Regions from separate parts of the Homo sapiens genome. Here region 2 is linked to region 1. Evidence: fine-mapped expression QTL. Tissue or cell type: whole blood. Region 1 holds a variant in brackets; the other region holds the start of a gene. All regions are shown on one strand. Distances are from middle to middle.

Region 1 (2,756 bases):
TCCAGTCCTGGCTACAGCACTTGCCTCAGGCAAGTGCCTTCCCCTGAGATTCCTCACCTATACAATGGGAGGGTTTAAGATTCCTTTTAGCTCTGAGAATCTATGGACAGAATGTGGCTGGAGAGGGGATGGACTTTGTGTCTCCATCCCTCGAGGCAGGAGAAATTCTTTCCTGGTGTGAATAATTCTCCCCTTCCCCACCAGAGCATGGGCAGGCTCCCACGCCTGCCACCTCTTCCTAGCCGTAGCTCTACTGGCCTTGCTTATGTCCTGATCCTGTCAACCCCTCTCACATGCCCTCCCCCAGGTACCTAGCACTGCACATCCTGGTTATCTCTTTTTCTGGACCTCCTGTCATATCTGCTAACCCTTGGTAAGAATGGTAGAGCTCTGGAGTGAAACAATCACATGGAGGCAGCAGAATATACTGTGTATGAACACACGACTTAAAGTCAGAGAGATGGAGGTTTATGTCCAAACTCTGCCACTTACCAGCCCTATGACCCTGAGCAAGTGTGATCCTCAAGAACTGTTTTTCTTTACTGTATAATAGGAATAATGATTGTTCCTATCTCAGGTCTATATATGAAGATTAAACAAGATAATGAATGTGCCCAATATATACTAAGTTCACAATAAACAGTAGCTAATATTACCATTTAGGATTCTGTAGAGCTCATTTGCATAGGTGTGCAAGAATTACCTTCCTATCTCCTTCGTATTACTTTCCTCTCCTTCCCCTTATGCAGAGAACATCACCACCCTGAAGCCAGAGACTAACACTGCAGGACTCAGCAGGTGGGTGAGAGAAGGGCTGGATCCATGAAGGAGGAAGGTGGGCTCCTGGGGAAGGATCTGTGGGGATTGGTGTGAGTGGGGGCCATGGTGATGGAGGCTAGAGCTGAAAAGAGGGGCTAAAATGGAGGCAGGAGATGGTTGGCCACTAAGGAGGTGAAGCCTGGAAGTGGGAGAGCTTCTACATGGGTGAGGAGGCCCCAGGGCACTTTTGTGGAGGGTCACCAAAGCCAGCCAGAGCAGCTGGATGGTCCTCATGTCTCTTAGTTGCTTCCTTCAGCCTAAGCACAGCAGCCACAGCCCTTTCTGGCTCCATTGCTGTGGTGTCCCTCATCTTGCTCCTGGTGGGTCTCTTGTCCATGACCCTGAAGAAATGGAGGCAAGAGAGTGAGTTGAACAAGCTGGCCCTGGAACTGGGAATGAAGAGAGGAGAAACTGGGGGCAGAGATTGGGGTGTTTTTCCTATGGGGCAGTCTTGTCGGGGAGGGGAGCGGGTAGTGGGAGGGTAATATGAAGGAGATATGAAGATAAGACC[T/C]CTTCTCTAGACTTGCTGGGGACTCTGTACACAGCAATAAGAATTACTCATCACACAAGTTCTTCATGCTGAAAGCTATATATAGTATAAGCCATCTGCATATATGCTTATGGCCTATATGCCTCAGCTAAAAGAAATACTGATGCCAAATAATCTCTTCTAAATAATAAACAAAATTATAAATTATAAAGCGTACTCATTTCCCCTGTGTCTTCCTGGGAATTTAACTTAGTCTCAGAGGCCCAATGGGCTGAGTGTGGTGGATTTTGCATTTCAAAGTTAAGCCCTAAACCCAGCAAACAACCAAGTAAAGATGGTTATTAACCCAACTCAGACTGACTCTGAGTTTATCCATTTTTCTAGGACTATTTAAGAAACAACTGAGGCATCAGACCAACTTTCCCCACAAGTCCTCGGTAAGGAACTAGTCCAGTCGCATGTAGAGAGGGGGATCCTGGCCTTCTGGCTGCTTCCTTACCTAGACCCCACACAGAGGGTGGTGGGAGGAGGCGGGGGGCAGATCTGGAGGAAATGCCTATGAAAACTGAGATCTAGGGCTTGTGCAGCAAGAACTCAGCATTCTACTTGCTGTCCTGTAGGGACAGCCCAATGCCTTGTTTTGTCTTTGGAAGTCCCTGGTGCCCAGCCATCTGCCTCTAACCAGGGTTCTATCTCTAAAGGATCTTTCCTGCCATGCTGATGCCATATATTCCAACGTGATCAACCTGGCTCCCCAGAAGGAGGACGACTTTGCTGTCTACACCAACATGCCCCCTTTTCATCACCCCAGGAGGACATTGCCAGACCAAGTGGAATATGTCTCCATTGTATTCCACTGATGGGAAGCTAATGAGATGCTCAGAGTGGGGGTCAGACCTGGCCCCAGCTGAATCTTGGCATACCCTTTGCTTTAGATTTATGTGTGTGTTTAAAAAAAAAAAAATACATAGGCCAGGCACGGTGGCTCACACCTGTATCCCAGCACTTTGGGAGGCTGAGGCAGGCAGATCACCAGGTCAAGAGATCAAGACCATCCTGGCCAACATGGTGAAACCCCGTCTCTACTAAAGATACAAAAATTAGCCAGGTGTGGTGGTGCATGCCTGTAATCCCAGCTACTTGGAAGGCTGAGGCAGGAGAATCACTTGAACCCAGGGGGCGGAAGTTGCAGTGAGCCAAGATCACACCGCTGCACTCCAGCCTGGCAACAGAGTGAGACTCCATCTCTAAAAAAAGTAAATAAATAAAAATAAAACGTAAAACATATTCTGATGGAGGTGGATGGCTAGACATTTCTTCTGATTTATTAGAATCAAAGTACTGTTCTAATAGAAAGGAGTGACATACAAGAAACACAGGACATGCTCGTCCAGATCACCCCCAGCCCCAGAGGCAGGCTCCTGAGACAGCCTGGCCAACAAGGAAG
Region 2 (2,624 bases), 37 kb before region 1:
TAGTTGATGAGGGGTTCCTTGGCACTCTGGTCCATTGAGCAGGACTCGGTGAACTGGATCATGTCCAAATTATGGGATTTCCAGAACTCAGAGAGCTGGCTCCGTGCCCGCAGCTTCTTCTTGAGGGACGGATGCCTCCTGAGGGGCACCCTGGAGACAAACCCCCATGTAAGCAGGAGATGTACTTCTGCCTCCCTCTTCCCCCCATTCTCGTCCCATTTTCTCAGGGGCCAACTAGAGAAGATGGGGTGGGAGGGGGGGATCTGCAAGACAGCACGCAGGATACAGGTGGGATCAGCGTCCTCTCTGCCACTCAGCCTGCCCGGCCTCATCTCTGCCCTATAGAGTCTTAGAATCTTAGAGTGGAAATGGCTCCCCTCCTGGAGCTGAGGTCTTTGAGATCTAGGAAAATGGGAGATGTGGGGCGGTCTACAGTTTTACATGAACATCACGAAGGGCTGATTTAAAGGGACAGAAAAACTCTTGGGGACAGTGATGGTCAGTCCCCTGGGGAAGTCCTGGGGCGCTTTGAGCTACAAACCACAACTGCAGGTTCCTGCTCTTTTGCAACACAAGAAGACCCCTGGGACTTGGGAAGGCACCTCCGTGGAGGTGGAGGCAGGAGGATGACTTGTTGAGGACTGGAGATTAAGGCCATACACAGGCGGTCACTGGATGAGTCTCTTCCATGCATTGACGCAAGCCCTCAGCTTCTCCTCCTCTTCACCTCCCCATCAGCTTTCCTACCCCAGAGCAGCCCTGAGTTGCAGGGCATGGGACTACCCAGCTGAACACAGTGCGGGGACGTCTTCTCACCTGTGAAGGGATCCTTGGGCCTCTCCCAGCTCCAGGAGCACCAGCAGCAAAAGAAGGAGCGTTTTCATTGTGAGTCCGACCAGCAGCTTCTCCCTTGCCCCCTCCTTTCTTCTCTCCCCGAGGGCAGTGGGAACGGACTTTCCCTAACTCTCAGACCTGCCCAGCCCAGTCTGAGGGCCGAATGATAAGGCCCTGGAGTCATTAGCCATGCCCAGAGTAAATACGGCATGTGGAACAGGGCGTTCCCCCTGCACCTCTCCGTCCCTTTCCCACCTACAAGAGGAATATGAGTCTGCGGGGAGAACTTGGGAGTCCTCTGGGGCTTGGCTTCTCTCAGGGCTTTGGCACCTCCTCTGACCCCAAGAAACCCTGTTAATGAATCCGGAGGGCAGCACATGCCTGGCTGCCTGGAAAGGCCCACTGAACTCTTACTGCAAGTGCTCTAGCTGGAGACTCTGGAGGGGTGGGAGCTGACTTGTCATGGGTGGCAGGATTCTAACTCAAAATATTCGTCAGTCTGTTTTCTGGGTGATTCCTGTTCTCTCCTCAATCTCTCAAATGCTCCAAAGGCAGTTTATCCTTCCCTGGCCCACTTTGAAGCACAAACCAGCACTCCTCAAAGGCCCTGAAATGGGAAAATGTAGCTGCAGATTTATGGAGCCCACTCTCCTGACTCTAAGGACTTGATGAATCTGGGGCTGGGGCTCAGGGGTGTGTGGAGGAGAATGCAGGGGCAGCGAGGGAGGGTCAAGGGGGTCAGCGTCTACAGCAAGTGCCCGCATGAGTCTACTAAAGCGGCCATGACAAAGTACAGGGGGCTTAAACAACAGAAATTTATTTTCTCACTATTCTGGAGGCTGGAAGTCCAAGATCAAGGTGTTGGCAGACTTGGTTGCTTCGGAGGCCTCTCTCCTTGGCTTGCAGATGGCTGCCTTCTCTCTGTGTCTTCACATGGGTCTTCCCTCAGCGTGTGGCTGTGTCCACATCCACATTTCCTCTTCTTATAAGGACGCTAGTCATATTGGAGTAGGGCCCACCCTAATGACTGCGTTTACCCTTAATACCTCTTTAAAGACCCTATCTCCAAATACAGTCACGTTCTGAGGTACTAGGTGTTAGGACATCAACATGGATTTTGGAGGACAAAGTTCAGCCCTTAACAGTGCTCAGGGACAATAGGATCTTCTATCTGTCAAGTGGGACTAAGCGCAGGGGTGGAGAGTGGGTGGGGCTCAGGCCTTAGTTACCGCAGTGTGTGAAACCCCCTCACCATCAGCCTATCTCTGTGGCCACCCGCCTCATAAACAGATGGTGGGGCTTCAGTGCCTGGGGTGGGGATGAAGGGGTTACAGGTAGGAAGACCCTGACCCTGACTCAAGTTAGCCAGGGCAGCAGAGGCCACCACCATATGCCAATGCTTCCAGAGGGCACTAGCTCAGCAGTAGGAAGTAGATGGCCTGCGTTTAGGTTTAGCTCTGCCCTGACCAGCTAGTGTTCTGGAAAATCTCTTAAGTGCTATGGGATCTGCCTTTCATCTCTGAAGTTCAAATGGCAAGCAAACGTGGAGTATGGAGCTAAGCCAAACCCACCCTTGGGTCCAAAAATGTTAAAAAAAGACATCAAAAAGACTTAAGGAACAGCCTAGACCTTTGACCCCTGAACCCAAGGCAACAAAGCCTCTTTGGCATTTCCCAGGAGCCCGTCTTGTTGATCTTTCACTGGGGAGAGTGGTCTAAACCTAGAAGGGCAGCTTGAGTCAGAAGTGGCTAGAAGTGGAGATCATTCATTTTGGCAGTAAACTCTGCCAT

What was found. PIP is the estimated chance that this variant, and not a neighbour inherited with it, causes the effect.
Region 2: CTSE starts here. The variant in region 1 is fine-mapped to the expression of CTSE in whole blood (TOPMed, PIP above 0.99).

Annotation. Positions count from the first base shown.
Region 1 is chr1:206,059,652-206,062,407 of GRCh38, forward strand. The region is part of intron 1 of RHEX (regulator of hemoglobinization and erythroid cell expansion); the gene reads left to right. The region is part of intron 2 of LOC105372857 (a long non-coding RNA gene); the gene reads right to left. Among named protein-coding and RNA genes, the nearest start is that of RHEX, 7.9 kb to the left of the region's middle. The variant T/C (reference allele first, on the strand shown) is at 1,331.
Region 2 is chr1:206,022,908-206,025,531 of GRCh38, forward strand. It overlaps CTSE (cathepsin E), which reads right to left and starts at 988. Exons shown (of 9, transcript NM_001910.4): 1 at 817-988; 2 at 1-150. The coding sequence starts at 884.